Linked DNA regions of Homo sapiens. The protein of the gene in region 4 purifies or fractionates together with the protein of the main gene of each other region. This does not show direct contact. Each region holds a gene or a part of one and is shown on either strand. Other genes may lie near its edges.

The links.
Region 1: the proteins of RNASEH2B (region 4) and TNRC6B purify together in Homo sapiens (affinity purification with mass spectrometry; one large-scale study listed by BioGRID and IntAct). This does not show direct contact.
Region 2: the proteins of RNASEH2B (region 4) and KCTD3 purify together in Homo sapiens (affinity purification with mass spectrometry; one large-scale study listed by BioGRID and IntAct). This does not show direct contact.
Region 3: the proteins of RNASEH2B (region 4) and C1orf52 purify together in Homo sapiens (affinity purification with mass spectrometry; one large-scale study listed by BioGRID and IntAct). This does not show direct contact.
Region 5: the proteins of RNASEH2B (region 4) and PSMD5 purify together in Homo sapiens (affinity purification with mass spectrometry; one large-scale study listed by BioGRID and IntAct). This does not show direct contact.
Region 6: the proteins of RNASEH2B (region 4) and HERPUD2 purify together in Homo sapiens (affinity purification with mass spectrometry; one large-scale study listed by BioGRID and IntAct). This does not show direct contact.
Region 7: the proteins of RNASEH2B (region 4) and FOXM1 purify together in Homo sapiens (affinity purification with mass spectrometry; one large-scale study listed by BioGRID and IntAct). This does not show direct contact.

What each region holds. Positions count from the first base shown.
Region 1 is NC_000022.11:40,261,425-40,264,924, reverse strand, and holds part of TNRC6B (trinucleotide repeat-containing gene 6B protein), read right to left. Parts: intron 3,094-3,500; coding exon 2,752-3,093; intron 238-2,751; coding exon 1-237.
Region 2 is NC_000001.11:215,601,804-215,605,303, forward strand, and holds part of KCTD3 (BTB/POZ domain-containing protein KCTD3), read left to right. Parts: intron 1-63; coding exon 64-151; intron 152-281; coding exon 282-398; intron 399-2,328; coding exon 2,329-2,499; intron 2,500-3,500. UniProt on the Homo sapiens protein: Accessory subunit of potassium/sodium hyperpolarization-activated cyclic nucleotide-gated channel 3 (HCN3) up-regulating its cell-surface expression and current density without affecting its voltage dependence and kinetics.
Region 3 is NC_000001.11:85,249,663-85,253,162, forward strand, and holds the end of C1orf52 (UPF0690 protein C1orf52), read right to left. Parts: intron 3,041-3,500; coding exon 2,967-3,040; 3' UTR 291-2,966; downstream 1-290.
Region 4 is NC_000013.11:50,916,291-50,919,790, reverse strand, and holds part of RNASEH2B (ribonuclease H2 subunit B), read right to left. Parts: intron 1-3,500. UniProt on the Homo sapiens protein: Non catalytic subunit of RNase H2, an endonuclease that specifically degrades the RNA of RNA:DNA hybrids. Participates in DNA replication, possibly by mediating the removal of lagging-strand Okazaki fragment RNA primers during DNA replication.
Region 5 is NC_000009.12:120,840,123-120,844,048, forward strand, and holds the start of PSMD5 (26S proteasome non-ATPase regulatory subunit 5), read right to left. Parts: upstream 2,801-3,926; 5' UTR 2,788-2,800; coding exon 2,615-2,787; intron 1-2,614. UniProt on the Homo sapiens protein: Acts as a chaperone during the assembly of the 26S proteasome, specifically of the base subcomplex of the PA700/19S regulatory complex (RC).
Region 6 is NC_000007.14:35,639,636-35,643,135, forward strand, and holds part of HERPUD2 (homocysteine-responsive endoplasmic reticulum-resident ubiquitin-like domain member 2 protein), read right to left. Parts: intron 1-3,500. UniProt on the Homo sapiens protein: Could be involved in the unfolded protein response (UPR) pathway.
Region 7 is NC_000012.12:2,863,675-2,867,174, forward strand, and holds part of FOXM1 (forkhead box protein M1), read right to left. Parts: intron 2,848-3,500; coding exon 2,719-2,847; intron 1,726-2,718; coding exon 1,681-1,725; intron 1,272-1,680; coding exon of another isoform or gene 1,211-1,271; intron 1,082-1,210; coding exon of another isoform or gene 1,079-1,081; coding exon 1,009-1,078; intron 822-1,008; coding exon 646-821; intron 1-645. UniProt on the Homo sapiens protein: Transcription factor regulating the expression of cell cycle genes essential for DNA replication and mitosis. Plays a role in the control of cell proliferation. Also plays a role in DNA break repair, participating in the DNA damage checkpoint response.

The DNA.
Region 1 (3,500 bases), on a different chromosome or scaffold from region 4:
GCAGAGTGCTCTTCTCAGAGCCAGGGTTCGAGGCACTGTTGTTATCGGTGGTGTTTTCGGAAGAAGATTCAGTGTCTTTGCTGGCAATACAAGGCCACTCTTCCATGTCAGACCCGTCTACAATCACCTTGTCCCAGATGTGAATTGGGTTGGGGGAGGTGCCGTTGTTGGAGGAGGCTCCCGAGCCCCAAGTGGAATTTGCATAATTTGAAGCAGCAGCACCTCCAAGGGTTGAGTCTGGGGAACAGATCATCTTATTAATCACAGCTTCAAATGCATTCATTACCCATTAATCCCTCAAAGGGGCTCTCCTTTGAGCTCTGCCCTTAGGAGAGCTGATCACATGCCAGTTTCTCTCAACCCAGTTGCTTGTATCACAACTGTCTTAGTCATCTCTTTTTTTTCATTTGCCTTGTGTTACACCGGTTAAGTCTAACTTCATCTCTCTCAAAGCTACGTCCTTTGCCATTCCTATTGACAGAGAAGGGCCTTCTTGTATCTTGGGACAAGGCAATAGCAATGGCACTCTAAACTTGCTCTGTATCTTCAACCTACTCTAAACACCCCTGGCTGGAGCAATCTTTCTAAAGCACACTTTTGATTATATCACTGCTGTATGGAGAACCTTCAACAGTTCCTTAGTGCACAAGAATAAAGCTGAACTCCTTGGCCTCGAATGTCATCAAGATGTTCCATGACCTGGGACCAACCAACTTTTCTAGTCTTATCTTCTACTACCTCCTATGTAGATGTCAATATTCGATACTACTTGACATTCCACAACTTGTGCCTTCTCACTCTGGCACCATTTCACGTTGGCACCTACTGTGTTTTCCTGCTGAATTCACACAGTGAAATTTACTCATCCTTCTGGGCCCAATTCAAGTGTCATTTCATCTGCGAAGCTGTTTTCAAGCTCATCACCTGAAAATAATCTTTCCCTGTCTAGAGCCATTTTGCTCAGTGCTGTGGCACCATGTTCACAACTTTCCTTCCCCATGTTAGCGTCTTTTAGGCAGAGACCCTAACTTGCTAACGTTAGAATTCCACACAGCAGCCAGCACAATGCTGCGGAGTAAGCATCTGCTGAATGATGAATACCCACTGAGCCACTGAGCTAGGTGCCCAGGGTGGCAGGGGTGTCACATGAGTATGAATTAGGCAGAGTTCACAACCCCAAGGAACTTAATCTGTTAAATGAGTCTGGCTCACCATATATTTTGGTGGAATTTACCATATTTGGTGGGAAAAACATGTTTTTAATGAGATCATTTCTTCTAAATTTATTTTGGCTTCTTTAACCAGGCAGCTTTTAATCAATTTGAAGTTTCAAAAAGTATTATACGGAGGCATAGAAAAATAAAAAGCATAGAAACCGAAACTCGAGATTTAGGGGCCTCCTCCGTTTTAATAATGTGGACTCTGACTCACACTGGACCCCAGTCTCCACCTAGGCCTGGCTACACTCGGCTGCAGAAACTCCGCCTGACAGGGCCTGCCCCTTCACATGCTTCCTTTTGCAGCTGGTTTGGAGAGCCAGGAAGGAAAGGCCATGGGTAGGGCTTATCTCTGCAGGAAGTCTGTGTCACCACGAGGTTTCTTTCCATCCTTACTCTGCACACAGCAAGATGGTGACCAAATTTTCTAGGCAATTATTTGTTTAAACTCAGAACTCAAATAAAGCATCCTACTGGTGACAACCATCAATTCATTATCTTTGCCAATGCCTAATGGTATTCAAGCTCTGAATTTTAATATCACCCCAAAAGACATTTTAAGTTGAAATCTGTTAATAAACTTTAAAAGATATTTAGAATTTCTTAGCTGTTAGTTGACTTAGTATTCATCTATTAAAAACTCTCACAACTTTTTTTTTTTTTTTTTTAAGACGGAGTCTGGCTCTGTCACCCAGGCTGGAGTGCAATGGCGCGACCTCGGCTCACTGCAAGCTCCGCCTCCTGGGTTGACGCCATTCTCCTGCCTCAGCCTCCCGAGTAGCTGGGACTACAGGAGCCCGCCACCATGCCTGGCTAATTTTTTTATATTTTTAGTAGAGACAGGGTTTCACCATGTTAGCCAGGGTGGTCTCGATCTCCTGACCTGGTGATCCACCCGCCTCGGCCTCCCAAAGTGCTGGGATTACAGGCGTGAGCCACCGTGCCCGGCCAAAAACTCTCAAAACTTCTAGTAGAACCTTTCAGCTAAATATCCCTTATTTCTACATACAGTTTTTAACAAAGCTCAAAATCCAGGGCCCACAAAAAGAAATACTGAGTTTAAAAATCTAATTTAAAAACTATAGTATTATTTTAGAATCCTCCGAAGATTCTATATTGCAATGTAGCAAATCATTTTCTCTATCCTCCTAGCATTCTGGAAACATAACACAGGCATCTAAAGATTCGCCTTCGCACAAGCCCCATGTCCAATTATGCCCTGAACACATATGACGGTGGAACTATGGAGGCTCAAATTTGTAACACTCTAGTCTGAGAAGGAAAAAAGGCCCCCAAAATAATAAGCAACAGCAGTTAAGTTAGCCCTTATGCCAAGAGCACACACTTACGGAACACTAAACCTCAGTTCCAAGAATCACCAATACACATCGCATACTAGGATCCTCTCTCATCTTTTGACTAATCCCAGTGGTTTATATAATGAATGGCTTTCCTGGACTTTACATCAAGCAATGCAAACAAAGTGCTCTCTCTCTGTCAAGCTGCCATGCATTCGATTCACAGGGTGCCTTACCTGGCGCAGTCCCACTCTCACTCTGCAGCAGCGCTCCTGTCACTTGTGCGTTGTTTGGGTTTGCTCCAGGTGCTGTGCAGGGAGGAGGCCCTGCCCCACCCCCAAGGAGCATGCAGGACGGTGGAGGGGGCTGCCCACGTTTTAGTAACACTTTGTGGTCCTGCTGGCAACGGAATCGCGGCGGCACCTCCCGAGGCATGTAGCGGGCGGCGCTTGGCGGTTGTCCGTTCGGCACTGCCACCCTTTTGGCATTGTTGCCACCATTGACTGGTGGCGATGGAGAGCTGCCAATTGGGCTGGCGGCCGTTGGTTGGCTTAAACTTGGTTTCGTCACTTCGGGCACTAAAAGAGAGGGGTTGGGAAACAGTCTTTGAAATACATCAAATACATTTTTTCTAAAAATTTTAAAAATAATTTTATTATTTTATTTAGAGATGGGGTCTTGCCATGTTGCCCATGCTGGTCTTGAACTCGGGCTCAAGGGACTCTCCCACCTTGGCTTTCCAAAGTGCTAGAATTACAAGAGTGAGCCACTGTGCCTGGCCAAGATTATTATTTATTTATTTATTTATTTATTTTTGAGACGGAGTCTCACACTGTCACCCAGTGTGAGTGTCGCCCAGGCTGGAGTGCAGTGGTGCAATCTCCGCTCACTGCAACCTCCGCCTCCCAGGTTCAAGCAATTCTCCTGCCTCAGCCTCCCAAGTAGCTCGGATTACAGGCGCCCACCACCAAAACCAGCTAATTTT
Region 2 (3,500 bases), on a different chromosome or scaffold from region 4:
ATTGACCAGAAAATAGAAATTATAATTACTATCTAACATCTGATAATACTCTCACTACATCAGGTTCAAGATGTTGTTCCTATAACTAGTTATGACACTGCTGGATCATTCCTTCTGCTTGGATGTAACAATGGATCAATATATTACATAGGTAAGTGTTCAGTCACTTAAAATGCTCCTGCTTAATGTAATTTTTTAAATGAGAACAAGAAAACATTACCTTTCAGTTTTAAATAGATATGCTATTTATTTTAATGCTGTTTAAAATTTTTATGTTTTAGATATGCAGAAGTTCCCCTTGCGAATGAAAGATAATGATCTTCTTGTAACTGAACTGTATCATGATCCTTCAAATGATGCTATTACTGCTCTGAGTGTTTACCTCACACCCAAAACAAGTTAGTACATGGCCAATTATATACATTCTTGACTTTTTATCTTTTTATTCATTAGTTTATTATGTGACTAGGTCAAATTAAACTGGTTTATTTCTTTTTGAGAACTGCAGTGCCTAAGGATTTCATCTCTACTAAGTCTAAAATTTGTATTCAGTTTTATACTGAAGTCAAACATGACCAGTAAACAAACATAATTTGAGGTGGAAAATTGGAACTCCCCTTACGCTGAATTGCATTTGTTGAGCCATATTATTATAATGTTAGCTGAAATTTCAAAAAAAAAAAAAATTCTGCACATTTGTCTTCCTATTAAAATAACTAATTTTTCACTTAAAAATTAGGAGCTTTTTAAAAAATAAAAAGTTCTTAGACTACTGCTGGAAACTAAGCTTATTTTCTTGGGAATTTAAAAATTTAAGCTGTAGAAAAAAGGCATTTTATAACTTTCAGTGCATTTTAGAGGCCATTGCAATAAAAGTAACAGACTAGTTCTGTAAAGTAGTAAGAATTTTTGTATTCTGGAGTAAAAGATAAGCACAAATGGGAAATTTAAAATTTATCTGTAATGAAAGGAGTTCTAAGAAACAATTTGTATTCAGTAATACTAATAGGTTTGGATGTGCTACTTATATAAGTCATCATTTCATTTAAGTTATTAAAAGAAACCATAATTTTTAGTATGAAAGAAATATTCAAGAGTATACCTATGAATTTGACTGAAACCATAGTAGGACTTAAATTGTATTGCTCTAGAAATAGGGTTTAGTAAACCACGGATTTCTAGCCAAGCTGGCTCTTTTTGATACCACTGTCTTTGGATGTTTTTATGCCACAATGACAGAATTGAGAGGTTGTGACAGAGACAGTGTGGCATGCAGAGTTTAAAATGTTTACTACTTGGCCCCTTACGGAAAGTGTACCAACCCCTGCTCTAGAATGAGCTGTGGATTTTTTTTTTAAATCTAGTTAAAAGGCAGGCATAAAACTGGGAAAGTTTTACAAATCAAAGCACTTCTTTTGTAGTGGCAGGGGGATTTTAAGGCATGAAAAATGGAGTCATCTTTCTGGTTCTAGGAGGTGTTTTTCATGACATGCTTTTTTTCCTTTGATTCAAGTATTTTCAGATGAATCAGTTAGTAAAACTAGAACAGCCAGTAAAGCTAAGATGTTCTCTATCCATGAAGCTTTTAAGAGTATAGGTCACTGAATTTTTTCCTATCTAAATTTGCAATGGGGTCTGGGCACTTTTTGAAAAAAAGAAAACAAAAGACACAGCTGAACCTTAGATGATTAGAAGAAACAACATATTTTAAGTATGATGTAAGCAATGTAATGGGTATGTTTATTCCCTAGCACAGTGTTTTGAAACTTAAATAGTATATTTAATGCTTGATTATTTGAGAATGATTTAGTATTGTAGTTTAAGTAAAGCAGATGGTAATTCTAGGCTAGACATAATAAGGAATATTGCTTTTGGAATACTATGCTGTTTCAGTAGTGTTCTTGGCATGGCAGATTTATGAATTCTTTAAACTATGTTGAGTACCTGCGGTGTCTCAGGCACTCTGTGAGGTGACAGATAAAAAGATGATTATGATTCAGTCTTTGTCAATAAGGAATAGAAGTAGCTAGACATAGAAATAAGTACAGAATTAGTGTGTTATAATTACTGTGATAGAACCTAATAGTGCAAGGCAGGAGGTGAATAGTTACGTCTTGGAGTGAGGGTTAGGAAAAGATTTATCAAGGAAATAATGATTTTAAGATGACCGGAGAAGTCTTAAGATTTTTTTTTTTACTGAACTGGATTTGGGGCTGATATAAACAGTGAATCCAGCTCTGCCTATTTTATCATAGGGAAGCTTTGCGAGGGTAGCTTTTTTATTATCGTTCCATAATGTATCACCTGTCAACTCTTGACTTTATATAGGTGTCAGTGGTAACTGGATCGAGATCGCCTATGGTACGAGCTCTGGAGCAGTACGAGTGATTGTACAACACCCAGAGACAGTTGGGTCAGGTCCTCAGCTTTTTCAGACTTTCACAGTTCACCGAAGTCCCGTAACAAAAATCATGCTATCAGAGAAGCATCTTGTATCAGGTAAAATGATTTCATTATACTGGTAAGGAACTTGGCTCTGTGTGTTATTTTCATTAAAAGAATGAAAACGCAGTGTTTATGTGAGAAAAATATACTAAAAGAAGTACTAGAAAAGTTTAATGACTGAAGAAATTATGATTGTCTTTTAAAGATTTCTTTGAGCTGGTCGTGGTGGCTCATGCCTATAAATCCTAGCAGTTTAGGAGGCCAAGGCAGGTGGATTGGTTTAGCCCAGGAGTTGAAGACTAGCCTGGGCAACATGGTGAAACCCCACCTCTACCAAAAAAGAGGAAAACAAAAAAAAGATGTTTTTTATTTTACCTGGTTTTAATATACTTAAATTTAGGAGATGTGATTTTTTTTTTTTTTTTTGCTCTCTTGGCATATCTTATTGCAAAATATTTATTATGACCCTGCTAAGAGGAATTTTTATTAAATTTTTCAAGTTTTACTTTTAATATAAATTGGGTTGATTATATTATGGTTTAATGCTAAAACTGTAGATTTAAATGTGTATTTTGATATTTTGTCATCTCAAAAATAATAAAAATTACAATTGTAGAGATTATTTGAAGAAAATAAGCTTTTCTTGGGTTTGTAGTTCTTCATAATATAAAATTTTTAATTAAATATTAATTGGATACATAAAAAATTAAATACTAATTTTCAAGTTTAACGAATAGTACTTTCTGATTACAAAGTAAAATTCTATTGAAGAAATTCATTGTGTATGGAAGATGATTTCTAAAAGGCTTTGTGAAAATTGCATTGTGAGTTGGGTGTGTCAGTAAAGCTTGCTTTCTAGAGGAGTCTTACATTAACTCCTTTTGTAGAGCAGTTCTTGCCCAACTTAAAATTTTTACAAACATGGTTTTCATGTGTCAGATTTGTTTTTGTGAAGGCTGGCTAGAAGATAATGCATCTTTTGTGAAAGATGTAGTGAAAGTTTCTCAATCTAATTAAACACCATGTGGAGCTGAAATTCAGTCCATAGCTGAATG
Region 3 (3,500 bases), on a different chromosome or scaffold from region 4:
AGTTCCTCATCTCCATCTGAGACCACCTCAGCCTGGATTTCATTGTTCATATCATTATCAGCATTTTGGTCAAAGCCATTCAACAAGCCTCTAGGGAGTTCCAAACTGTCCCATATTTTCCTGTCTTCTTCTGAGCCCTCCAAACATTCCAAGCTCTGCCTTGTACTCAGTTCCAAAGTCACTTCCACGTTTTTGGGTATCTTTTCAGCAGTACCCCACTCTACTGGTACAAATTAACTGTATTAGTCCATTTTCATGCTGCTGATAAAGACATACCAGAGACTGGGCAATTTGCAAGAAACAGGTTTAATTGGACTTACAGTTCCACATGGCTGAGGAAGCCTCACAATCATGGCAGAAGGCAAGAGGAGCAAGACACATCTTATGTGGAGGGCAGCAGGCAGAGAGCTTGTGCAGGGCAACTCCCTGCACTGATGGTTTTTAAAACCATCAGATCTCGTAAGACTCATTCACTATCATAAGAACAGCACCGGAAAGACCCACCCCCATAATTCAGTCACCACCCATGACACGTGGGAATTGTGGGAATTACAATTCAAGTGAGATTTGGTTGGGGACACAGCCAAACCAGATCAGGATCTCAACATGTTGCCCAGGCTTAACTTAAAGTGCAGGAAACAATCAGAAGTATCAAGTGACTCGATTCTCTAAAATGAAAGATACTTGGACAGATGATTTTTCTTATGTATATGGATTTTTAAGACTTTTCCCCACTAGGTTTCCACTAGCTCAACCAAACTTCACCTCAGTACCCACATGGACACTTGTGCAAACACGTTCCCAGGACATCTCTAAAGGGGAAAATAATCTATTCTCTAATGTGATGATGAATGTAGAGTGATATGACAGTCCGTTTTCCAACCAGGAGATACAAATGGCTGAGTCAGACTTGCTCCAAAATATTTAGCCTCTTCCCTAAGTCCTGTCTTCCTCCTCATACAACATACTCTGCACATCTCCCAGGAAAGAGAGAAAAAAGTTTGCTTTCATGCTAACTTAAGAACCTTGCAATATTTCAGTAACTTCTGAGATATTTGCTCCACCAACACATGCATCCAAATTTTAGATTTCTCCAGAGCTTGGGAATCACAACTTCACAAATATAACTTGATTTGGTTGTGTTTGGTGTCATGTACATACTATGGTCTTGCTTTGTCACTTGATGCCACTCCTTAGTATATGATACCACAGATTTCCAAATTCATTACAAAGACTACAATCTTAAAAAAACATATTCTTGCTTTAGCAATTACTTCAATTTTGGGATTCATATATTTGCAAACCTGGAGGATGGGCAGCTATAGAATTGGTTTTTCTAAACTCGATGATATACTGGAAGCCATCATGCTGTTATGGACCTTCATTCCACAAAGCACCATGGCTGATGCAATCACTCTTAATGACTTTTATGAATTTTAATCTACTTGATACACATGCCTAGGTAAACAAATCTCGCGTAATTGTTCAAATTTTATCTTCCACAATGGGGAAAAACAGATTTAAAAAAAAATACTTAGATTATGTCTTTTTCTTTCTAAATTATTTTTTGTAAAGATGAGGTCTTATCATGTTGTCTAGGCTGGTCTCCAACTCTTGGCCTCAAGCTATCCTCCCACCTTGGCCTCCCAAAGTGCTGGGATTACAAGCATAAGCCACCATGCTTGGCTGTCTTGTTCTTATACACTGAATGTGCACTGTTCTGTAATTCTTATCTCTTAAGGGCTTCAGATTCATGGAAAGATTGATGCAGAGTGTAACCTTTTTATTGTTCAAAATGCTACAAATAACTGCATTTTGGAACTCAACGATCACACCTTCCCAACTACTTCTTGTTCATTTTATTATTACTATACGCAAAGCATTAAAATAGAAGCTGGGTAGAGAAAACATGTAGAAGTAGGGTTACCAGATAAAAGATGTTCAGTTAAATTTGAATTTCAGATAAACACATTTTTTGTATATGTCCTGAATATTAAATATACTAAAACATTATTTATCTGAAATTCAAATTTAACTGAATGTCCTGTAAACTTACAATTTAATAAAGAAATTAATGAATAACCATAAAGCACAGATGACAAGTACAGTCATCCAATCAGGAGAGGAAAAGATCTCTACTAACGGATCTCCAGGTACAACAGAAAAAAGTACCTGGAAGAGATGACAATTGATGTCATTCCTGAAAGATGACTAAATTTTGACTGGTGGACAGGTGGTTTAATGTGATGATTTTGAGGTTCAAGTGTCCCAAGTTAAATTCCAAATGAACCACTCACTAGCTGTGTAACATCAGACAAGCTACTCAAGCACTCTTTATTATAAAATGAGAATACTAATAATACCTTGCGCTAGGTTGTTTAAGGATCAGAGAAAATATATGCACAAAGCACCTGGAACACAGGAGGCACTCTTTAAATGGTAATACTTCTTATTACAACTTAAAATGTCACACGACAAATAGGGTACTTGTCACAGACAAACATTCAAATGTTAATGTTATACAGTAATAGTAATATTGAATAAGTAATTTTATTTCCATGATCTATTTACACTGTACAAAGACTGTTGAAAAGCACCCTACAAGTTCACAGTACATTACAATATATTTACTTTAAAAATATATTCCTTTATAAAAGGTTTATAAGAACATTGGCATGTCAACATGTGACAAAACTCTCAAAGCATGTCACCAATTCTGTGAGAGCAAGAATGCATCCAAGTGTTATCAATTTCACAATCACAAGTCACCAGTTGAGTTTTAAATACATACATGTTTTAAATAAAAAAAGAATTCTATAGTGGAAAGTTCTTGAGGCAATACTTATTAGTTCATTAACGTATGCATTTTCATGGAGATGTGGCATAATAACCCACAATATCAACTTAATCTGTCCAAAGAAACATTTCAACAAGTTTAGCAGTACAGAAATTCTGGTCATTTGTTTCTACTTTTTCTTCTTTGCTGGTTCTCCTGGCTCTACTTTGCGCTTTTTAGAAGTATGCTCATCTTTTTCATCATCTTTAAATAGAAAAGGAAGAGTTTCAATCAGTAATTTTAAAAAACCCAACATGTTAAGCATTAAAATTTCACTGGCTTTATACCAAAATTATTACCCTCATCAATTAATGTTTCTCTCAGAGTTTCCCAATAAAAAACAAGAATTAACTTTTAGAGCTCTGATTTTTAAATGCAAGTGAAAGTGAGCAATTTTTTTTTTCAATTGCAGCCATACAAAATTCACAAAGTAACTCTTTAGGTGCTATACTAAGGTAGCTTAAAATAAGTGACTTTACTTCCCCCAAATCAGACTTTTGAAAAAGGCTCCCAAATACTCAGCAAGCTTGTCCAACCTGCCTTATTTGTTGTTGTTGTTCTGTTTTGTTTTAGGCTTTTAGCAGCCTGAAGCCATGGTTTTTAGTTTCTGTCTCTAGTGATAAGCAGAAAAGAAGGATGATGAAGGGGCTTTATTGGCCCAACC
Region 4 (3,500 bases):
AACCTGCCTGAAGGTCAGAGTGCAAGTCAACTATAGAGCCAGGATTTAAACTCAGTCAACTATTATCCAGAGCCAATGTTTTAAACTATAATACTGTAAAGAAACTCTTAATCTGAAGTCCCATACCTCTTAACTTAAAAAGCACAAACTGCAGCTTGGAAACACAATGATTCTGACATGACTATTCTCCTATGATATAAACATTTAAAATTTTCCCTCTCTTGTCCTGTCCTCCTCATCCTCAAAAACCAGCAGAGTCATCTAACCAGCTGCAATCCAGCTATTGCAATCCAGCCAGTAGACCACACAGCCAGGGGGCAGAAGGAAGAGAAAGGAGGGAGAGCTGTGTATATTCTATACATAGCTGCATATACTTCTCCCCACCACCCCCAGATATCTGTGACATTATAATGCTGAGAAGTTAGGTTACACAGCACGTATTAATGCACAGACTTAACCATTCCGTATTTTTTAAAGTTAGCCACAAAGTATTGTACAAGCCAAAATGGTACATGATTTTTCATCTACAGACTATATAGTACAGGTTGTTGTACAGTTGGTATGAAGTTATTTATCAGCAGGTTTTTCAAACTTGGCAGCTCTTTCTTATCCCTCTCTTGGTTAAGACAAGTTTTTTCACTGCATTTAAAGTTCAAAGACACAAGACAAGTGATTTTTGCCAATTGTTCTTATGACTTGGAAGCAATGGACACTTGTTCCTGAGCCTCTCTGATTTTTGGCACACAGGAGATAAACTCTGAGAAACATACACCCACTGTTACATGGAGGAGAAAGTACAGACATCAAAGCACCATTTACTTTATTTTTAGATATCATATCAAGGCTATTCAGGTTTCTTAAGAAGATCCAATAGAAAAAAGAAAAAGAGAGATGAGATTATCACTCTCATGCTTATGCAATACGATGTCCTAAATAGGTTCCAGTTCATTTTCTTTAGACTTCAGCCATCAGAATATATTCAGACCCTCCCCGTCCCACTGCCCCGGCACCCTCCTGCCTGTTTGCCAGATACTTCCTTGGAAACACTTTGGTAGGACACAAATACAATGCATGCAAGACAAATCAGCATAATTTTCAAGTAACTTGCAGCTTCCAGGAACACTAATTTCAGTAATAACTATATGCCTTCACTTCCCAAAACATTAGCACTGCTGTCAAAGAGATCTGGGTCATTTTCCTGGCTTTGAAGCTCTTTGTTTCTTCAAAGACTACAAGAGGCAAACCAAGAAAGCAAGAGAGACATGCACCAGGAAAATTATGTGATTACTGAAGTAATAGATTCCTCTAAGTGTAACTTTCTTTTGAAGCTTTGGAGAAAAAAATAAAAATTAGAGGCCGGGCGCAGTGGCTCACGCCTGTAATCCCAACACTTTGGGAGGCCGAGGCGGGCGGATCACGACGTCAGGAGATCGAGACCATCCTGGTTAACACAGTGAAACCCCGTGTCTACTAAAAATACAAAAAATTAGCTGGGCATGGTGGCGGGTGCCTGTAGTCCCAGCTACTCGGGAGGCTGAGGCAGGAGAATGGCGTGAACCTGGGAGGCGGAGCTTGCAGTGAGCCGAGATCGTGCCACTGCACTCCAGCCTGGGCGACAGAGTGAGACTCTGTCTCTAAATAAATAAATAAATAAATATAAAAATTAGAAACTAGCCTTCAGCAGGACCATAGAAGACAAAATCTCCATTCTTTCAGGGCTGTCCCTATCAACAACCATGTTTCTAGGAACAGCCTGTGCACTGGTGAAGAAGCTAGTAAAAATATTCAGGTTCACAGCCAACTCAGAGCCACAAAGACCAGCAAACATACTGAGATGGAGCATGGATGGAGCATGAACTATGTGGGAAGCAGGAAAAATTGTGGAGTGCTAGAAAAGACAGACCTGATTGGGGTGACTGAGAGCAACCAGGTTTGGTTCCAGGGAAGGAGGTATGTCTGGTCCCTAGTCATCAAACTGAGAGCAGTTTGAGACCAGCCTTTCCTGGTCCTCTGGCCTCTCCCACAGTGGTGAGGCATCATTATTCAGTCAGCAGAGTGGCCTCTGGCACATGCAGGAGTCCTGGAAAAGGACTTGAGAGAGCTGACAGTCTCTGCCACTGGATTTCTATTGTATGTTGACAGATTACTTGACTTCTCTGAGTCTTGGTTTCCTGATATGCAAAATGGTGATAATAAAGCCTGCCTTAACTGCTTCCCAAGGTCATCAAGAGGGTCAAATACAATTATATGAAAGTGTTTTGCAAAGTTATAACAGCTAGAAGTTGCAGGCCTAGAAGCTGGGCTTCCTAAAAATTATACAAACTTTGACTAAATGAAGGCAAGTACAAGTTACAACTAGAACCCAATTCTCCATACAAATAAACCTCTGCTATACCTATATACAAGCCAGTCAAACAGACTACCAGCAACTGAGAAACCCCTAATGTTGGCCATAGGCAAGACAGCTCATGAGTGGCTGAGGTTTCTGGCCAGAGCTCAGAGTCCCACTGGTGAAACGACGTGGTAGCTAGTTCCTCTGCTGTCTATCCTGTACCCTTTCCTTCTTCCAGAAAAGCACTCTTTAGCCTCAAGTGCCCACTTTGTCCTCCTCCTCTCCCACCTTGTGCTTACAGCCTGCCCCTCCCTGGCTACAATAGGTGGTGGAGGGTGGGACTGCATGTGACCACAGCAGGACCAGTCAGAAGGCTGTTTTGAAAGGTTTCAAACTGGAACTAAGAGGAGAGACCCCTCCCAGCAGACACTGGGGGGATCTGCAGCTTGGGAATCACGTGAAACCAGTTTTTCACTAAATGCAGGAAGTTAGTTTGAGAAGAGGAAGTTAACACTCAGAGAGGCAGAAACCCTGGACTCCTGCTGCTGCAACACCCTAGGGCCAGATGTCCTATGCTCTCCACCACCCCTGCTCCTTCCTGGGAGGATGTGAACCTGCTAAGGAACTCCCAAAGAAGTTCATGTTTGATTTTGTAACACACAACCCAGGTGCACTGACCCCACATTAAAAAATGGCAATTTCCATACTAAGGCAGACTCACAGGCTATTCAAACCAGTATCCGGTTTCAGGAAAGCACACCAAGGGATGTTTGCAGGAGGCTATGGTTGTCCTCAAAAATGTAACCTGCTTTGAATGGCTTTTGAAACATCCTAGTTTGCCATTGGGTCCAATACAGCTCTGTAAATGTATCTTTACCTCTTTTGCACCTATTTGTATTTTCAATCTTTATCCACTTTCAAAGATAACCCATTCCAAATATGTACTGTCTACTGTCTGAAGCAATAAGTATTACACCTCTTCAATGTTCAAAGCCTAAAATACAAATTCTCTTTGTCAACTTGTTTCATATCACTGTGTGAGTTTCTGTCCTTATCAAAATTAAGAGGAAAAAAACAGCCCCTACCTCTATTAAATCAACTGAACTTTCTCCAATTTTATGTAGAACAGCACCATATAAACTTTTATGTAACCCCAATCTCCCTGAGT
Region 5 (3,926 bases), on a different chromosome or scaffold from region 4:
TCTCAAAAAAAAAAAAAAAAAAAAAAGGGCCTCACTCTGTCACCCAGGCTGGAGTGCAGTGGTGCAATCTTGGCTCACTGCAACCTCTGCCTCCTGGGCTCAAGGGATCCTCCCCCTCAGCCCTCTAAGTAGCTGGGACTATAGGCACGCACGCCCAGTTAATTTTTTGTTTTGTTTTGTAGAGACAGGGTTTCACCATGTTGCTCAGGCTGGTCTCAAACTCCAAAGCTCAAGCGATCCACCCGCCTCAGCCTCCCAAAGTGTTAGGATTACACGTGTGAGCCACTGCTCCCGGTCTACAAAGTGTTTTTATTATTATTATTATATTATTATTATTATCTTGAGATGGAGTCTCACTGTGTTGCCAGGCTGGAGTGCAGTGGTGCAATCTTGGCTCACTGCAACCTCCACCTCTCAGGTTCAAGTGATTGTCCTGCCTCAGCCTCCCAACTAGCTGGGACTACAGGTGTGCGCTACCAAGCCCAGCTAATTTTTGCTTTTTTTTTTTTTTTTTTGAGACGGAATCTCACTCTGTTGCCCAGGCTGAAGTGCAGTGGAGCGATCTCGTCTCACCGCAACCTCTGCCTCCCAGGTTCAAGAGATTCTCCTGCCTCAGCCTCCAGAGTAGCTGGGACTACAGGCACGTGCCACCATGCCCGGCTAATTTTTGTATTTTTAGTAGAGACAGGGTTTCACTATGTTGGCCGGGTTGGTCTCGAACTCTTGACCTTGTGATCCACCCGCCTCGGCCTCCCAAAGTGCTGGGATTACAGGCGTGAGCCACCGTGCCTGGCCTAACTTTTGTATTTTTAGTAGAGACGGAGTTTCACCATGTTGGCCAGGATGGTCTCGATCTCTTGACCTGGTGATCTGCCCGCCTCAGCCTCCCAAAGTGTTGGGAATACAGGCGTGAGCCACTGCACCGGGCCTACAAAGTGTTTTTAATCAAACACTACGGATGTGTAAAAAATCAAAAATAAAAGTTGTCCTACTATTTTCAGACCCACTTCCCTATTAATAGTTTCTGGTGTACCTTTGCAGATATTTGCAATGTTATACAAGTTTTACATGCCTGTGGGGGTTGGGAAGATTGTAATCCTTTTTAAAAATTACAGGTTAAAATTATAGATTGATATACCCTGCGATTTTCTTTTTCATTCAACAACACAGAGATTGGCCGGGCGCAGTGGCTCACGCCTGTAATCCCAGCACTTTGGGAGGCCGAGGCGGGCGGATCACGAGGTCCGTAGATCGAGACCATCCTGGCTAACATGGTGAAACCCCGTCTCTACTAAAAATACAAAAAATTAGCCGGGCGTGGTGGCGGGCGCCTGTAGTCCCAGGTACTCGGCAGGCTGAGGCAGGAGAATGGCGTGAATCAGGGAGGCGGAGGTTGCAGTGAGCCGAGATCGCGCCACTGCACTCCAACCTGGGAGACAGAGCGAGACTCGTCTGAAAACAAACAAACAAACAAAACAAAACAAAACAAAACACAGAGATCTTTCCATGTCCACATACATATATATACATCTACCTCAATAACTTAAATAACTGCACAGTGTTACAGAGTAATAGCGCATAATTTGGAATCCTCTGTTAACGGATATTTAGATTGTTTCTAGTGTTCTGGTGCCACACACGATATGTTATATTCTTGCATATAATGTTGTAGGGTCCTCCAGTCGCCCCCTTTCTTTCTCTGTCCTGATGGAAAATCAGAGTGCCTTGATTGCTCTCTGACCTAGCCAGCGGCAGGTTTCCCTAGCAGGCTTGACCATAAACCAGGGGCCTTGAACATTCACAGGCCTGATAAAGGTACCTAGGTTGTTGCCCAAAACACTGGAAGAAACTGGCCTCAACCCTGAGCCAAATTCCTTTAAACTCTCATCTGAACTCCATACCCTGACCCCCTCACTGCGGACATACCCAGGAACACCTTTCTCCCGGTGTCCGTCTTGACAATTTCTGCAGCCCTCTGCAGGTTTCCCCCTAAACGCTTTTGGACTGATCGCCTTGGCATTCAGTGCTTCTTTTTCTGTCATCCCAACCAGCCACATCTCGGGAAGGTTTGAAGCACTCCCTCGTGGGAACTCTCTTGCCGCTGCTTTTGGGGCGATTCCAGCCTCGGGTTCGAAAGAACAAAGTAACTGCACATTTTGTGCGCGTATACTTGCATTAAATTTTTTTAACAAGAATGACTGGATGAAAAAGCATGTGAATTTAAAATGCTGATGGTTCTTGCCACATTGCCAGGATAGGATCCTTTTAGAAGGGGAAACAAATCAAGAACCTGTACAAAGAGATGTGGAATGCTCCTTGTAAGTGGACAGCTTTGCTTTCCTCCTTTAATTTCTATTTGATGAAGAAGGCAGTGCCTCACTGCTCAGAGGCAGCGAGGCCAGGCGACGGGAGAAAACACCCTGGGGCACTCTCAGAGGCTGAACCTGAACCCCATCTCCTGCCTCTGAACCCAGGATCCTTCCTTCTCTGCAAATTTCGGCTACTTTCCACCTCCCCTGTGACTGGGAAAAGCGCTGTTCTTGCCCTCAACCACTCTCATGTCCATATTTAGGGGTGCCCCTCTCCTCGGCTCAAGCCCCCGGGGTCCTCTCACCTATGGTTCTCGTTAAGCAGGGAGAAGAGCGGGCCGAGGCGCAGCTCCGCCGCTTGCTGGCGAAGCTCGTTGAGCGGCACTGCCTGCAGCACGGAGTGAAGCGCGCGTAGCTCCTCCAGCGGCGCTTCCAGCCTCGCTACCTCTCTCAGCAGCGCCAAAGCCTGGGCTGCCATCTTGCCCCCCGACGCAGGGGCTGGCCCAGCGGCCCAGTTCCCGGGGCGCTTTCCTGAACCTCGCGAGATCTGATCACAGCCTCCTTGTCCCTGAGATGGCTATGGGGCTGCCAAGCCTCGCGAGAAGCCTCCGTTAGGGCCGTGTCAACTGTAGCCAGTGGTTGCGGCTCCCTCAGTCTGGCGTCATCTAGGTCGCTGCTCAGGGAAATGCGGAGGCCAGTAGGCTTACGTGTTTACCGCGTAGGGCAAAGCCTTGCCAAATTCCCGGCCAGCGGAGCGGCGAGGGTGGGGACTCACGGGAAGTTAAACAGCCTCGTCGGCGTCCTCGAGGCTCCAAAACCAGGCTCTAGGCGGGGACGACTGCAGCCGTTATGGAGGCCACCGCGGCTACGGCCGCGGCTGAGGCCTCCCCAGGTGGAGCGGTGGCCTGGAGGGGAATCTTGATCCTGGGCCAGCCACCTGTCAAGAGGAGGCGGAGCGTCATGCCTCTGGAAGACTGGATGAATATTCTCCAGGAGCCTGACGAAGGCGTGAGTAATAGGGACGTGCGCCGCCTTGTTGGTGTTGATCAGTCCACCAAGGAGAAGCAGCTGGTCGCAGTGGCCGTACCTGTAATCCCAGCGCTTTGGGAGGCCGCGGCGGGAGGATCGCTTGAGCCCGGGAGTTCGAGACCAGCCTGGGCAACATAGTGAGAAACCCGTCTCTACCAAAAAGAAAAAAAAAAAAAAAGGAAAAAAATTAGTGCGGTGTGGTGGCACGCACCTGTAGTCCCAGCTACTCGGGAGGCTGAAGCGGGAGGGTCCCCTAAGTCTAGGAGGTCGAGGCTTCAGTGAGCGGTGATTGTGCCACTGCACTCCAGCCTGGGCGACAGAGCAAGACCCTGCTTTCCCCTCTTGTCCTCCACTACCCTCAGGAAACCAAGAAAGACCAGCGTGGAGAGTTGGTCGCCCATCTGCTCTAAGCTGCTGTGTATTCCCCTGTAATGTAAACATCGTGAAGGTGGAGACCCAGTTAACCTTTTAGGTGGAAGGCCAGATGACAGAGGGCGGCATCTGACCCGGAAGGCCCTCTGCAACCAGGCCAAATACATCTACAGGGAACCAATGGGAAACATCTGGGGAGGACAACCCAAATAAGTA
Region 6 (3,500 bases), on a different chromosome or scaffold from region 4:
TTTATCTTTAGCTGATACTAGTTTGGTCTATCCAGAGTGAGACAAGAATAAATTCATTAGCTATAATTTTATATTCTAAAGACTGTTTACACATACAATTGGTAATAATTGATTATAGAAACCTAACTTAGAAGAGCCTGGGGAGCTAAGCCTTATCAACAGGCTATACTTAAAGAAACGTGGTGCTAGGTAAGGCATCACCTTCCCCACATATTACCTGAACTTTCCTTATTCTTGATGGAGCAGTGGCAGCCACATAGGGTCCCATCCTCAAAAGACCCTTCAATCTCCTAATATTTTATATATATTTCCTTCATATAGGGTCCTATATAAGGGGGAAAAAACTTCAGCTCTCTTGGACACAGGACAACAGATGACACAGCACCTCCCCACCTCAAAAAAAGCAAACCTCAACCCAGTTATTCCTTTAAAAAGATGTCAGTTAGTGAGCAACTCTGGAGAGAAAGCCATACCACTGAGGCAGAGAAGTATTTTAAAAACATTTGTTTTGTACAACTCAGCATTTACACCAGGGAGCTGATGCATCTCTGAGCAAATCTATAAAACTACCTAAATCAAGTATTACAGCAATATGCTGTATCTAGATGTATATTTTAAATTTTATTAGTATTTCCCATTATGAAAAAACCCATCCCCTTGAAAGTAAATCTCCACCAATCTCTATCATTAATAAGAATGTCAAACAAGTCTGTTACTTCAACTGTAAAATGGGAAGGCTGGAGTTTGTCACTGTTTTTAAAGCTCAAGGGAGAAAAGCCACTAACCATTACTTTTTTAAAAAGTTATAGCTTCCCATGTCACCCTCCTGCATGCTGCCCAAAACATATGGAGAATATAAGGTGATTGTTGAAAATATGTTGCCAAAATAAATAAATAACCTCCCCAAGTATTCTTCCCTTTTTCCCTAATAAGTTAGAAAACTACTGGACGATATAATTGCCAAATACATCCCAGGCCCAAGAGGACATACTATAATTTTCAGTTGTGTTCATTACCCTCAGACAAGATGGTATGCATTTGGTATTCTCCAGAAACAAGGAATAAAGGATCTGATGCTAAATTATAAAGTTATTAATAAAATATATAGGAATAGATACAATGAAACACATTACTTAAGAATTTAATATATGTTAGAGGATGCATCATTAAACAACAAGTTAAAGAGAACTGTTATTTAATGCTAGGGAAAAAGATGATCAAATCTGTGGGGAAAAGGAGTTTAAAAGCTTCATCTCATTCTGTATATTCAAATAACAGAGCTGAAATAAAGTATTAAGAGTGAAACCACAGATAGCCTAGAAGAAACTAGAATTATTTACCAACCCTTTGGAGGAAGGACTTTCCTAACTTAAGTAACAGAAGAAAGAAGAAAAAAAATCAACATATTTGACAACAAAATTTAAAGAGAAATGGCTAAGAAATGTTGCAATAAATTGTAGTTAATATGTTTTCTATATAAAGAACTGATAGAATAATCATTAGGATATCAACTATTAATTAAAGCAAAGATAGCTTTTTTAAGTTTGTTTGCCAAGGTAGAAAAGATTAAATAAAAATATCCATTATTGGCAAGAGGTACAGGTAAAACCTAACTCTTTGATTGCTAGTGGCAGTATAAATTGGAATAAGCCGTTAAAACACAATTACAAAATTAAAGACCTTTAAAAATGTTTTGCTCTATGGAAAAAAAATTCTAGCTCATGGATAAGAAGAATCAATATCATTAAAATGGCCATATTATCCAAGGCAATTTGTAGATTCAATGCAATCCCTATGAAACTACCAATGACATTTTTCACAGAACTAGAAAAAACTATTTTAAAATCCTTATGGAACCAAAAAAGAGCCTGAATAGCCAAGGCAATCCCAGGCAAAAGGAAGAAAGATGGAGGCATCATGTTACCTGACTTCAAACTACTGCAGGTCTACAGTAACCAAACCAGCACAGTACTGGTACAAAAACAGACACACAGACCAATGGAACAAAATAGCCCGGAAATAAGGCTGCACACCTACAACTGTCTGATCTTTGATAAAGCTAACAAAAAACAAGCAATGGGAAAACTATTCAATAAATGGTGCTAGGATAATTGGCTAGTCATATGCAGAGGATTGAAACTGGACCCACCTTCCTTACATCACAGACAAAAAATCAACTCAAGATGGTTTAAAGACTTACATGTAAAACTCAAAACTATAAAAATCCTGTAAGACAACCTAGGCAATACCATTCTGGACACAGGAATGGGGAAAGATTTCATGACAAAGATGCCAAAGCAATTGCAACAAAAGCAAAAATTGACACATGGGATCTAATTAAACTTAAGAGCTTCTGCACAGCAAAAGAAACTATCACCAGAGTAAACAAATACCCTACAGAATGGAAGAAAATATTTGCAAACTATACATCAGACAAAGGTCTAATATCTAGCATCTATAAAGAACTTAAACAATTTTAAAAGAATAGAAAAACATTTAAAAAGTGGGCAAAGGACATGAACACACACTTTTCAAAAGAAGATATACATGTGGCCAACAAGCAAATGAAAAAAAGCTCAACATCACTGATCACTACAGAAATGCAAATCAAAACCATAATGAGATACCATATCACACCAGTCAGAATAGCTACTATTAAAAAGTTAAAAAATAACAGATGCTGGCAAGGTTGCAGAGAAAAGTGAACACTTCTACACTGTTGGTGGGAGTGTAAATTAGTTCAACCATTGTGGAAAGCAGAGTGGTGATTCCTCAAAGAGCTAAAAACAGAACTACCATTTGACCCAGCAATTCCATTACTGGGTATATACCCAAAGAAATATAAATCATTCTATCATAAAGACATATGCATGTGAATGTTCATACAGCACTATTCACAATAGCAAAGACACAGAATCAACCTCAATGCTCATCAATGACAGATTGGATAAAGAAAAAGTACATATACACCATGGAACACTAAACAGTCATAAAAGAAAATGAGATCATGTCTTTTGCGGGAACATGGATGGAGCTGGAGGTCATTATCCTTAGGAAACTAACGCACGAACAGAAAACCAAATACCGCATGTTCTCACTTATTAGTGGGAGCTAAATGATGAGAACACATGGACACAAAGAGGAGAATAACAGACACTTCAGCGTACTTGAGAGTGGAGGGTGGGAGGAGGGAGAGTATCAGAAAAAATAACTACTGGGTACTAGGCTTAGTACCTGGGTGACCAAATAATCTGTAAAACAAACCTCCATGACACGAGTTTACCTATGTAACAAATCTGACCGTGTACCCGTGAACCCAAAAGTTTTTCAAAAAGCTTTGCTCTTATGCCCAACTGCCCAAGTAATTCTATTTTTGAAAATTAGCTTATAGAAATATGAAATATGGAAAAAAACTTCACATCTCTGCCCTTTAATAAAACCTTTATACATACTCCCACTTCCAGCCTGCTGTCCTCTAATAATAGAGAGAAACTGGAGAC
Region 7 (3,500 bases), on a different chromosome or scaffold from region 4:
GAGACCCACAGCGTCTAGCCTCAAATCCACTTCTTTCTTTTCTTTTTTTTTTTTTGAGACAGAGTCTCGCTCTGTCACCCAGGCTGGAGTGCAGTGATCTCGGCTCACTGCAACTTCCCTTCCTGGGCTCATGTGATTCTCCAGCCTCAGCCTCCCAAGTAGCTGGGATTACAGGCATGTGCCACCAAGCCCAGCTAATTTTTGTATTTTTTAGTAGAGACGGGGTTTCGCCACGTTGGCCAGGCTGGTCTCAAACTCCTGACCTCATGATCCACCTGCCTTGGCCTCCCAAAGTGCTGGGATTACAGGTGTAAGCCACAGCGCCCGGCCAAATCCATCTCTTTCTAAGGCCTGCCTCCCTTGTGTATCTTCCTTAATAATCCTAGCCCATCTATCACAATCACTTTTGTCTGAATTCTTACAAGCTCATCAGGTATTTATGGGCCTTCTGACACCACTTACATTGTAATCCAAATACCTTTTTAGCTCTTCTAATGCTATTACACTTCCCTATGTTTTTATGCCTTTTCTACCCAACTAGATTTATAAGCTCTCAAGGAACACTTATCAGAGTGCTTTGCAAGCTGAAGGTCCAACATTCTTAATTGGCCAGAATCTCTCTTCAGAGGAAAATAGGACACCCACCTTGGGGGCAATGCGGACTCGCTTGCTATGGCGGGCAAGCTCTGAGCTCATGAGGGAAGCCGCCAGGGGCAATGGCACCTTCACCGAGGGCTGCAACACCAGTGACTGGTTCACCGGGAACTGGATAGGTACCAGGTATGAGCTGACCCGTGGTAGCAGTGGCTTCATCTTCCGCCCTAGGAGGAAACACGAGAGATCAGGAGCAGGGGGACTGGAGTACACCCCTTCTCAGCCCCAGGAGCTTTGCTCTCCTTCTCTGGGCTCAGATCCCTTTGAGGTGGGAACAGAATCCCAGAGTCTGGTTCCCTAAAGATATGGCCCCAGAACAAGGACCAGGCCCAAGGCCCACTCTCCCATACTAACGTGCGCCCAGGGGGAGTTCGGTTTTGATGGTCATGTTCCGGCGGAGCTCTGGATTCGGTCGTTTCTGCTGCTGCTTGTGGCAGATGGGGAGAGAAAGAAACCTATGTTAACACAATAAGGTAAAGAGGGGATGGCAAAACCCCACCAGCTGCTCTGGTGGTGTGTGCTTGAGTTAATGACAGCCCAGAGAGAGGAGGCCAACCTGAGGGGATGGACGTAGGCGAGCAGTCTCCAAAACTGTGATGAGTGGGCAGGTGGGTGGCCTACAGACACATGATGGCAGAGTGGCACTACCGCTTCACCCACGTGTCCTCAACACCCCTGGGGGATGCCAGAGCAGGTAGCTATATGCGTGGCAAAGAAAAGCTAGGCACAAAAGTGAGCGAACGAACTGCCGCCCCTGAGGCTGGTGCCATGCGCTTGTGGCTGCTGCAGCATGCTCCCCTGCTGTGCCCTGCTCTGCTCAGTGTGCCCTTGTGATGCCCATGGAAGGGGAGGGAAGTGGGTGTGTGCCTGACCCTCAGGGTGTTCTGTGTCTAGGGCTGGCACCTAGACAAAACATGGCCATAGGGACCCTTCCCCACATCACATCTTGTCTCTGTCCACTAAAGCCATGCTGAGCAGTGAAAGGAAAACAAGGCCAAGCCCCGAGCCAGAGGGAAAGAACCTTACTGATTCCAAGTGCTCGGGCAATTGTGGAGACCCTGGGTCCAGTGGCTGGTGGCGGCCAGGCATTGTGGGAGAGAAATGAGATGAAGTTACCACCAACGTGGTCAATTTGACCGGATTGGGAAAAACACTTATTCCTGACTGATGACAAAAGACACCCCAGACAACTGCCCCTCCCAGGAGAATGGTTACAGCTACCAGCAGCCTTATGGGCACTCTGAAAAACCAAAATAACTTCTTTCTGAAAAGACGTTCTGGTAGCTCAGCTTCTGGTCTCCAGCCTAAGGCAGGCTTTTTTTTTTTTTTTTTTTTTTTTTTGAGACAGACTTTCACTCTTATTGCCCAGGCTGGAGTGCAATGGTGCGATTTCAGCTCTCCACAACCACCGCCTCCTGGGTTCAAGGGATTCTCCTGCCTCAGCCTCCCAAGTAGCTGGGATTACAGGCATGCGCCACCACACCCAGCTAATTTTTGTATTTTTAGTAGAGACGGAGTTTCTCCATGTTGGTCAGGCTGGTCTCCAACTCCCGACCTTAGGTGATCCACCTGCCTCAGCCTCCCAAAGTGCTGGGATTACAGACGTGAGCCACCACACCCAGCAGGAAGGGCTTTTTTTAGAGCAAGCATTCCCAGAATTTCTTGTAAGAATCACCTGAGATGCTTGCTAAAAATACAAATTCCTGGGCCCATCCCAGAAGCACTAAATCAAGAGCCCCAAGAGAGGGGTCTGGGAAGCTGTGTTTTAACAATGTCCCAGGCAATTCCCATTCACAGGGAAGTTAGGAAAACACTGCCCTGGGGAGCCCTTTCTGTTGGGTCAGAACAGCCTTCTCCTTGCTCTGGTCTGGCACAAAAATGTGTCATTTGGTATTTGTCAAGTGTACTTAATTCACTGGGTTTTGTGCAAGTCACTAATTGGGTGGCTGGCTTCTAACTCTCCCCTGATCAAATGAAAGCATCACTAGCAGAACTTGTTTCCTTTTGAGATGGCTATGACAACCTCCAACTTAGGCCCTATTTAGAGGAAAGCAGGGCATTCACCTTAAACACCTGGTCCAATGTCAAGTAGCGGTTGGCACTGGGGTGAATGGTCCAGAAGGAGACCTTGCCATTGGCAGACGTCTCCCGGACAAACATGTCGTGCAGGGAAAGGTTGTGGCGGATGGAGTTCTGGAAGAAGAGCAAGACAACTGGTTATCAGCTACTTTAGATTCAGAAACATCACCCTTCAAACACATGGGGAAACCAGCCTCAGGCCCCTCCCACTGTGCTCAGCACAGGCTTCGTCTGGTGTCTTTGCAGCCCTCTTGGCAACTCTCCTGACACTCCACACCGCAGAGCCGTCACCTTCAGCCATAAACCCATCTATTCTACGGGAATAAAGACTGATGCCAACCTTAGATTGTGATAAAGAAAAGACCTAGATAGCTGTCAGGGGCTAGAAAAGCAGAGTAAGGCTGTGAGGTAGTGATCAATAGCAAGAAAGGTGGCTCAGAGAAATTAAGAAACTAGGGAATTAGGCCCGGCGTGGTGGCTCACGCCTATAATCCCAGCACTGTGGGAGGCCAAGGTGAGTGGATCACTTGAGGCCAGGAGTTTGAGACCAGCCTAGCAAACATGGTGAAACCCTGTCTCTATCAAAAATATAAAAATTAGCCAGGCATGGTGGCGCATGCCTTTAGTCCCAGCTACTCGGGAGGCTGAGGCAGGGGAATCACTTGAACCTGGGAGGCAGAGGTTGAAGTTAGCCAAGATCATGTCACTGCACTCCAGCCTGGGTGACAGAGTGAGGCCCCGTCTCAAACAAACAAACAAGAAACTAG